2 separate regions of the Homo sapiens genome follow, and region 2 is linked to region 1. The links come from fine-mapping of genetic effects on gene expression. A gene starts in region 1. The other region holds a variant in brackets. All regions are shown on one strand. Distances are between the middles of the regions. Region 1 holds the start of GOLGA1 (golgin A1). Region 2 overlaps SCAI (suppressor of cancer cell invasion).

Region 1 (5,380 bases):
GCACTCCACTTTGGGCTACAGAGCGAGAATCCATCTCAAAAAAAAAAAAAAAAGAAAGAAAAAAGAAAAAAAGCAACATACTGTAATCACTGGGGCCATCTTTCCAACAATCGTCCCAATACAACAATGCACTCTTGCTAACCCCATACCACAACTCAGAGACCTTGTTAAGCAGCAATGACTTAGTTGTTATATAAGTATATATGTCTGCAATGAAAACAGGCCCAGACATTTTCAGAAATGAAATGCAAAAGAAGATGTATAAGGTATATAGACGGAAAAACAGTACAAGAGGACACTGGAGAGAATATGGAGAGGAACTCACAGAAAAATAAGGAAAAAAATATAGAGTACCTTAACATTTACAAACCAAACATTAACAAAAAGGTACCTCAGAGTAAGAAGAATCAGATGTACAGGCTCTTGTACAGCTATAAACCATGAAAGGTATGAAATAATCAAGCAATTTAAAATATTTATTGGAAGAATACCCTGCAAAAGTATCTTTATTTCTTAAGTAAAGGTACTTACAAAGTCATCTCCTGAGTCAGCTCCCATTGAGGCAACTGATTCCTTGCTCACAGACCGTGGGATCCTAGTAGCACCTCCTGGCCTCTGAGCAACAGCAGTCTCTTCTGCAATTTTCTTCTTCAGTTTTGCAAACATGTTTGCTGTGTGGCTATCCTGCACAGATGACGAGCTCTCAGTAGTCCTGGTGCCTGTGTTCAGGATTCAGACAGAGGCGCCTACAAAGTTTCAGACATCCAAGCTAGCTGCATTCCCACTTAAATGTGGGCCAAGGGCTTATGGCAACACAGGATCTACAAATCAGATGAAAGAGACAGTTCAAAAGTTAAACATTGGAAAGATTTCGCATCTGAGTTGTTAAGTTTTAGATTTCAAAACTAAGTTTCATAACTTACATGTACACTTATAGAACACAATTACTAAACATTTAAAAAGCACTCAGGTGCTTCATATGCATATACAGATGAAGAAACCCAGTCTCAAGAAGATGAAGTAACCTACCAAAGATTGTGTGGCTAAGTGGAAGGGCTGGTATTTGAACAGAGGACTCTGATTCACAAATCTCTACGTTTTTTTTTTTTAATTACATGTTGGCTATGACATATAACACACTTGGTAAAATGTCCCAGAGCAGACATCAACATCATATATTCATGACTTAATGATTTCAAATCCTTCCTCCAATAAGCTTAACTACAGTTTAGTGTTCTTTAAGTTGAAGACAAAAATGCATGTAATTCAATTCATATGTAATTCAATATTCAATATGTAATTCAATATGTAAAAGGTGTAATATCCTACTGTTTCAGGATGGTTTGCAATCAACTGTCCAATAGGAAAAGCTGGTAACAGAAAAAAGAAGACACACCAGACAACTCTATTATATAAGTATCTGATATCCTTGAACATTTTCTAGAGACGCTGTGTGGTTTTGAGTTTGATAAAATTACCTCCAATGAGTTTATTTTCTTTCTTTCTTTTTTTTTTTTTTTTTTTTTTTTTTTTTGAGATGGAGTTTCGCTCTTGTTGCCTAAGCTGGAATGCAATGGCACTATCTCGGCTCACCGCAACCTCCACCTCCTGGGTTCAAGCGATTCTCCTGCCTCAGCCTCCCGAGTAGCTGGGATTACAGGAATGCGCCACTATGCCCGGCTTATTTTATATTTTTAGTAGAGACGAGGTTTCTCCGTGTTGGTCAGGCTGGTCTCAAACTCTTGACCTCAGATGATCCACCTGCATTGGCCTCCCAAAGTGCTGGGATTACAGGCATAAGCCACTGCGCCCGGCCTCACAGTTTCTTTTCTTAAGAATGTTTGACATGATATTCAAAGTAAGATTCAAAAACCTTTTCCTCCTAATGGTGTATAAAACACTAATATTCTGGTTCCAACCTTAACTTTCCATGTTTTGTGGAGGATACCTAAGCTCTGCTCTGAGATACACAAATGCCATCTTACCACTTCAGATCCTCCATTAAGGCTGTACAATTCTTCAGAAACTTTACTTTCAATGTGTGTAAACCACTTACTCACCTGGCTTATCTACTAGATTTAAAACAGCTTGGAGGTCAAAGCATTCTGTCCTGCATGAAGACAAAGATAAAATGCATTGGGTATTTCTTTTCAAGTGTATGGCCAAAATGTTGGGTGGGGATAGGGGGAAGAAGTGAAGGAAGAGGAGGGGCAGAAGAAGGATTAAAGGGGGTAAGAAAACCTGTCACAACTCTCAATGGGATACCCTCCCTAACCCTGATCTCCTATGAAATTGTTTTTTGCCTAAGAGCTTCACTTACAAGCGCATAGAACAGAATTGATCACCGCAGCGGGTGCCTAAATTCACTTCTCCCTGGGAGCCCTGAGCAAAACAATTTGAATGAGGTTAAGTTTTCCTGGAGCCAGTATTTATTTCTCAGTTGATTACTACACTCACATACTGTTTACCCGGCCAGACCCTGGGCGTCTGGTCACGGATGTGCACTGACAAAAAGCAAGGCAAAATTGGGTAAAGACAGATGTCTAACCCCCAGGGAGGCAGGCAGGTGCCTGCCACGGCAGTTTGGATCTCACTCCCTCAGGCTACCTCCAGCCCCGCCCGTGCTTTGGACTGTCAAAGAAAGGAAGGATCCAACATCTCTCCCATTTGACAGCAAGGAAACTGAGCCCTAGAGAGGAGGAGCGACTTGTCCAAGGTCGCGCAGGGAGGAATCCCGGAACCCTAGGCTCCAGACTCCCAGGCCGGGGCAGCCCGCCTCCGCCCCCACTCTCACCCTTTCAGCACCCCGGTGCCGCCCCCCGCCTTGGGGCTCGGGCAACCCTGACCGGGCCGCTGTGGGGACAGACCGAGGCCACTGGGAGAATAAGGGGCCTGCTCGCATTCCCGGAGTCCTGGCCCGCGCACCTGCCTCTCTCTGGGAAGCCAGCAAAGCCCCGCCTCCCGGGCCTCTCGTGAGCCCCGGCCCGCGTCACCAACCCCCACCGCCCAGCCGGCGAGCCGAGCAGCGACCCGGAACCGCACGTCTCCCAGCGCGCCGGAAGTGACTGCGCGGTGGGGGGAGGGGGTTGGTCCGACGCGCGCATGCGCCCGTGCGCGGCCTTGGCGGCTACTGTTACCACCTCTGAGCGGCGACTGGGCCGGAACGGCTGGAGTTCTCGGGTGCCCAGCCGGGCGCTCCCTCAGCCCAGTTCGCCACGTCAGCGAGCGGCCAGAGCCACAGATGATGACTGAGTCTCCGAGGCCTCTCGGTCTTTTTCTATTTTAACAGGGGCGCGTGCAGAGCGTGGTAAGTGGGAGGGGCTTCGTGTCAAAAGTAAAAGAACCCAGTCGGTGCCACAGGCCCCGCTGTGCTGTGCTGGCTACAAACCCGGCCGGGGCTGCACTGCTTGGCCAGGCGCCCCCCCGCGCCGCCCGGTCCCGCCGCACCCTAGGCAGCTGCCTTGCCACCGTGTGACCCGGGAAGTCTGCGCCTCCAGCTTCACTCACAAGCCAGTAGCTCCAGAAACTAGTCCTGGGACCTTACACCTTGAGACCAGTTTTTAGACTTTGGCGCCTGTCACCTACTGTAGATGATGCGTTTTATATCGCAACCGAGTACATAACGTCCAGCAGAACCACGTTCTTACTATGTAATGCACTTAAAAACGCTGGTGGCAGCTCACTATATTGGATTAGCTTCACCATCCGCTGCTGGGCCGTCTCCTTTCTGCTTAGGAAGGAAGTTGAAAACATCAAAAGTGCACGGCGCGCGCTTCTGTGGTCCCAGCTACTCGGAAGACCGAGGTGGGAGGATCTCTTGAGACCAGGGCTTCCAGACCAGCCTGGGCACCGTGGCGAGACTCCGTCTCTTTAAATAAATAGCAATCATGCAGGCAGTAGGAAAATAAACAAAAGAGGAAAAACTATCTTGTTCCAAGTCACAGTCCAGGCCGGGCGCGGTGGCTCACTCCTGTAATCCCCACACTTTGAGAAGCCGAGGCGGGTGGTTCACCCGAGGTCAGGAGTTCAGACCAGCCTAACATAGCGAAACCTCGTCTCTACTAAAAATACAAAATTAGCCGGGCATGGTGGCCCATGCCTGTAATCCCAATTACTTGGGAGGCTGAGGCAGGATAATCGCTTGAACCCGGGAGGTGTAGGTTGCAGTGAGTCAAGATCGCGCCATTGCACTCCAGCCTGGGCAACAAGAGCGAAACTCTATCTCAAACAAAAAGTCACGGTCCAAATCAGTACCCTAAGTCAGGTCCCTGAACTCGTCAATGCCAAGCCAGCCATTCCACCTTAAGGAACTCTGGTTCCATCCCCAGACTCAACACAAGCCCAAGAATAAGCAGATTCCACCCAATTCTTCAACAGTCCCTTCCCTCGCGTGTTCCAGTTCTGACCTGCAGGAGCAGGGCAGGGAAAAAACCAAAACCAGGATTCAAACATTGACAAACTAACAAGAAGCATCAACCCCAAGATAGTTCAAAGCCTCTGAGATATTTGAATGAAGCAAACCCTAACAGTTCAGCTGTCAATACCGAAAAAGTACCAAAAACTTTAAGCAAATAATGTTTATTTTTATATTGATGATACACTTAATATATATGTGGATTCAAGGTACAAAATTCATGTACAAGAGTTCACACCTGATGAATGTAGACACATTCCTAGAGAACATTTATCAATGTGAAAATTTCTTTAATACACTGACAACAAAAATCAAATATTCTCTAATCTCGTTATTCAATAAACATCAAAACAACGTTTCAGTTTTCATCCTCTAGTACTGAAGTGCCCTCAAGGTGGTAGGCACTGTATAGCAGGAGAAAACATTGGAAAGCCTACTGAATCCGCTCTGCAGAATCACAGTGTTTACTCTGAAATTCATTTAGTGAAGTAGTGGAAGGCTATCTTTTATGACAAATCACATCTCATACAAGAGTCAAAAGTGATGAACTCAAGAAAATAAAATGTTTCAAGAACTTCTCAATTTCTAAAATCTATGGAGTATTAACCATAACAGACAAAGAAGAAAAAGGCTGCTGGAAAGGAAGAAAAAAACATCCTGTTTAAGAGAACGTATGGCTTAAGCAATTTAGAACACAACTGACAAGACTTTTACAATACCACAAATGTTCAAGTCAAATGATAGTGACAGTATAATTTTCCCCTTAGTCATTGGTAGTAAATAGCCCCTTCAAAATTTATTCTACTGTTAACACATATAAAAACTATGAATCCAAACAGTTTTGCTAACGGGGCTGAGTTGATGGATTTTTTTCTAAAGTATTAACTCACAATATCCAAATATTAATACAAATGAACGACAAGATTGTTTCAAAGATTACAGTGATTTGTGAATAGCTAAATAGGC
Region 2 (5,380 bases), 57 kb after region 1:
TTAAAGATTTTTAATATTTCAGGCTACATCTTAATACTGCAGGTAGTAAGTAGGAAAATCTTTTTACTATCACTATTTTTTTTTTTAAAGACACCGTCTTGCTCCGTGGCCCAGGCTGGAGTACAGTGGTGTTGTGCAATCGCAGCTCACAGCAACCTCCATGTCCCGGGCTCAGGTGATCCTCCCACCTCAGCCTCCTTGAGTAGCTGGGACTGCAGACATGTACCAACACAACCAGCTAATTTTTCTCTTTTTAGTAGAGATGGGGTTTCTCCATATTGCCCAGGCTGGTCTCGAACTCCTGAGCTCAAGCAATCTGCCCACCTCAGCTTCCCAAAGTGCTAGGATTATGGGCATGAGTCACTGTGCCCAGCTACTTTTTACCATATGTTTCCTCTAAACATTTGCATCAAGGGCTTGTTAAACATGCAGTTTGACTGGCCCACAGAAGAGCTACTGAACCCAAAGGCGGAAATCCAGTAACATGCATGTGAGAGCCAATGCGTAAGGTCAGAATCTTGGTGTGCGTGCTCTTTCCGATGACTGAGTACACGATGTGCATATGTGGATAGATACTAATGTAAATGTAAATTTATGAATGTTTCACTGAGCAATATCATCAAACTTCATTATATTTCAAATAAAAGTTTTTCTTTTATTGACAAATAAAAATTGTATATATTCAAGGTATACAATGTGATGACTTGTTAATGCATACATGTATAGTGATTACCACGATCAAATTAATCAACACCTCCATTCCCACACCGTTACCCTTCGTGTGTGTGGGCGGTGGGGCGGGGGTGGGGGGGTGGTGCTGGGGGCAGTGGGCAGAGAGGACACATAAGCTTTACTCTTTCAGAAAATTTCGAGTAAACAACAATTTTTGTTATTGTTGTTGTTTGAGATGGGGTCTCACTTTGTCACCAAGACTGGAGTACAGTGGCAAGATCATAGCTAACTGCAGCCTCGATCTCCCAGGCTCAAGTGATACTCCTGCCTCAGTCTCCCAAGTAGCTGGGACCATGGGCGTGCACCTCAACGCCTGGCTCATTTTTTACATTTTTAGTAGAGACAAGATCCTCTTATGTTGCCAAGGCTGGTCTTGAACTCCTGAACTCAAGCAATCTTCCCATCTCAGCCTCCCAAAGTGCTGAGATTACGGGAATGAGCCACCATGCTCGGTCCAACAATACAGTATTTTCATTTATTTTTTTTTATTTATTTATTTTGAGATGGAGTCTCGCTCTGTCACACAGACTGGAGTGCAGTGGTATGATCTCGGCTCACTGCAACCTCCGCCTCCCACGTTCAGGCAATTCTCCTGCCTCAGCCTCCCAAGTAGCTGGGATTACAGGCACATGCCACCACACCCGGCTAATTTTTTGTATTTTTAGTAGAGATGGGATTTCACCATGTTGCCAGGCTGTTTTCGAACTCCTGACCTCAAGTGATCCGCCCACTTCGGCCTCCCAAAGTGCTGACATTACAGGCCTGAGCCACTGCACCCAGCCAATATAGTATTTTTAATTATCACCACCATGCTGTACTTTAAATGATATTTATCTTACAACTGAGAGGCTGCACCCTTTAACCAACATCTCCCTATTTTCCCCAATCCTCAGCTCCTCAGAACTACCGTTGCACTCTGCTTCTGAGTGCAACTTTTTCAGATTCCACATATAAGTGATCATGCCATACAGGTTCAGTATTCCTAATCTGAAAATCCAAAACGAAAAATGCTCCAAAATCCAAAAAGTTTTCAGAGCCAACACGATGCCACAAGTAGAAAATTCCACACCTGACCTCACATGATGGATCATAGTCATGCAGGTGCACAACACATAGTTTATCCAGGATCTCAAAGGGAAAAATAAAATTACTTTCAGGCAATGTGTATGAGTTGTATATGAAACACAAGTCAATTTCATGGGTCCCATCCCTAAGGTACCTTACTATCTATATACAAATATTCCAAAATCTGGAAAAATCCAAAACCCGAAACACTTTTGGTCCCACATATTTCAGATAAGGGATATTCAATATGTATTAGAAACAAAGTTTTAGACCAGTCCAGTTTTCTTTATAACCAGATTGCTCTCAGCTAGAAAAATTCTAGAGCCAATGAGCCAATAACAGCCCAAGCAATGAAGTTGTTATGCTTAGAAAAAGAATGAACTCCAGGCACGGTGGCTCACGCCTGTAATCCCAGCACTTTGGGAGGCCAAAGCAGGCGGATCACTTGAGGTCAGCATTTCAAGACCAGAATGGCCAACATGGTGAAACCCCATCTCTACTAAAAATACAAAAATTAGCTGGGTGTGGTGATGCATGACTATAATCCCAGCTACTTGGGAGGCTGAGGCAGGAGAATCGCTTGAACCCGGAAGGCAGAGGTTGCAGTGAGCCAAGATAGTGCCACTGCACTCCAGCCTGGGCGGCAGAGTAAAACTCTGTCT[CA/C]AAAAAAAAAAAAAAAGAAAAGAAAAGAAAAAAGAAAAAGAACTTTTGTAGATGAAATTCTATTTGCTTTTGTATTTTTTGCATTTAAAAAAATTTTTTTTTAAGTTTTTGTAGAGACAGAGTCTCACTAAGTTGCCCAGGATGGTCTCAAACTCCTGGGTTCATGTGATCCTCCTACCTCAGCCTCCTAAAATGTTGGGATCATAGGCATGAGCCACTGCTCCTGGCCTGAAGTTCTATTTGTAATCATGTAACAACATTCATTTGTGCTATATTAAACCAACAAAACCTTGTATTAAAAAATTCAGGCCCAGCGCGGTGGCTCATGCCTGTAATTCCAGCACTTTGGGAGGCCGAGGCTAAGGTCAGGAGTTCGAGACCAGACTGGTCAACATGGCGAAACCCCATCTCTATGAAAAATAAAAAAATTAGCCAGGCGTGGTGGTGGCCACCTGTAATCCCAGCTACTTGGGAGGCTGAGGTAGGAGAATCACTTGAGCCTGGGAGATGGAGGTTGCAGTGAGCCAAGATCGTGCCACTGCACTCTAGCCTGGGCATGAGAGCAAGATTCCATCTCAAAAAAAAAACAAACTCAATACTAGAGGTTGGGAAGGGTAGGGGAACGGGGAACGGAGGTATAGGGAAGAGATTGTTAAAGATTAAAAAATTACAGCTAGATAGAAGGAATATGTTCTAGTGTTCTATACCACTGTAGCATGACTATAGTTAATAATATGTTATATAGTTTTTATTTTCTCTTTTTTGTTTTTTTGACACAGAGTCTTGCTCTATCACCCAGACTGGAGCACAATCTCAGTTCACTGCAACCTCGACCTAATGGGTTCAAGTGATTCTCCTGCCTCAGCCTCCTGAGTAGGTAGGACCACAGGCGCAAGCCACCACACCCGGTTAATTTTTGTATTTTGGTAGAGACAGGGTTTCATGTTGGCCAAGCTGGTCTCAAACTCCTGACCTCAAGTGATCCACCCATCTCGGCCTCCCAAAGTGTTGGGATTACAGGTGTGAGCCACTGCTATCAGCCTTTATCATAAATAGCTAGAAAAAAGATATTAAATGTTCCCAACACAAGGAATGGATGTTTGAGATGATAAGTATGCTAATTACTCTGATCTGATCACAATACATTACAAATATAGAAACATCATTAAGTACCCCAGGAATATTTACAATGATTATTTTTCAATTAAAAAAATAAAATAAAATAAAATGTGGCCGGGCACGGTGGCTCACACCTGTAATCCCAACACTTTGGGAGGCCGGGGCAGGTGGATCACAAGGTCAGGAGTTCAAGACCAGCCTGACAAACATGGTAAAACCCCATCTCTACTAAAAATACAAAAATTAGCCGGGCATGGTGGCTGGTGCCTGTAATCCCAGCTACGCAGGAGGCTGAGGCAGGAGAATCGCTTGAACCCAGGAGGCAGAGGTTGCAGTGAGCCGAGATCATGCCACTGCACTCCAGCCTGGGTGACAGGGCAAGACTCCATCTCAAAAAAAAAAAAAAATGTTTGGGCTGAACACAGTGGCTCACATCTTGTAATCCTAGCACTTTGTGAAGCTGAGGTGGGAGAATCACTTAAGGCCAGGAAATCAAGACTGACCTGAGTGACAGAGGAAGACTCCATCTCAAGAAAAAAATTTGTTTAAAAGTTCGTATTGATGTTACATGTATAATGTCCTGACATATTATTTATTTATGTATATATTTACTGTCTCCAACTAGAATGCAATTTTGTTCACTGACATATCCCTAGTGACTAAACAGTGTGTAACATATTTATTCAATGAATATCAACCAAAAGTTCTAATTTCCTAGGATAGACAGAGCCTGAATTATTGCTGGAATCCAAATAAGTGTTTCTGGTCTGTCCCTAAATCTTAGTCTAAGGGAATCATTCTAGTACTAGAAAAAACTCCCCATTTTACTTAATATTTTTTCTATTTATAGACAGAGGTATAATTTTTATAATAAGAGTAGACACCAGAATACATACCAGTGCATTTCCTTGTGGGACTGATTTCGTTTGTGGATGGCATCTCCATTAATAATATCCCGGTTACTATTAGTAAGTACACCTCCAAAATCATAAGGACCTATAAAAACAAAGGGAAGAATCCTAGACTTCAGTTGAAGACTAACACTGACCTGATGTTCAAATACAAAGGTACTGTGTGAATCTCTCATTGATTCAAGCGAAGATAATTACACATTTAAATTATTTTAAAATTTAACATTTTAATTTAATGGAGTATTTAAATGACTTCAGTATGTTGTCATTTTCAACATTTTAAAAAACATTTAATTATTCAGCAGTTCTTCAAACAGAATATAATGAGAAACAAAACAAGACTCTATGGCATCATTATTCTAAGTAATAAAAGGAATGGAGATCTGGGATGTTCAAAATGACCTTTACATTTCAAGCAAACTTAAAATCTCAGGTTTAACAATATTATTTTAAAAGGAAGTTGGTCAGACATGGTTGCTCATGCCTGTAATCCCAGCACTTTGGGAGGCTGAAGCAGGAGGACTGCATGAGGCCAGGAGTTCCAGACCAGCCTGGGCAATATAGTGAGACCTGTCTCTACAAAAAAATTTTAAAAATTAGCCGAGCATGGTGGTAGGTGCCTGTATTCCCAGGCTGCAGTGAACTATGATCACACCATTGCACTCCAGTCTGCATGACAGAGTGAGACCCTGTCTCAGAAAAAAAAAAAGAAGTTGCAGAATAAAATAAGCTTTTTTTTTTTTAAAGAATGAAATCTTAGTCTCATAAGTAAATACAATTTTAAATGAGCCACTAACTGTAAAACTTAGAAAAATATTTGAATAGAATTTGAAAATTCTCATTCACAAAAACTTCACCTTTAAGAATGTATTGCCAGATTTCAGCGTGCA

What was found. PIP is the estimated chance that this variant, and not a neighbour inherited with it, causes the effect.
Region 2: its variant is fine-mapped to the expression of GOLGA1 in whole blood (INTERVAL, PIP above 0.99).

What each region holds. Positions count from the first base shown.
Region 1 is chr9:124,938,046-124,943,425 of GRCh38, forward strand. GOLGA1 (golgin A1) reads right to left here and starts at 3,038. Exons shown (of 23, transcript NM_002077.4): 1 at 2,926-3,038; 2 at 2,061-2,110; 3 at 532-821. The coding sequence starts at 666. It overlaps SCAI (suppressor of cancer cell invasion), which reads right to left. Exons shown (of 18, transcript NM_001144877.3): 18 at 4,563-5,380. RefSeq lists enhancers at 2,630-3,130, 3,131-3,631 and silencers at 2,713-3,082, 3,413-3,472.
Region 2 is chr9:124,995,416-125,000,795 of GRCh38, forward strand. It overlaps SCAI (suppressor of cancer cell invasion), which reads right to left. Exons shown (of 18, transcript NM_001144877.3): 13 at 4,476-4,575. Among named protein-coding and RNA genes, the nearest start is that of GOLGA1, 57 kb to the left of the region's middle. The variant CA/C (reference allele first, on the strand shown) is at 2,460.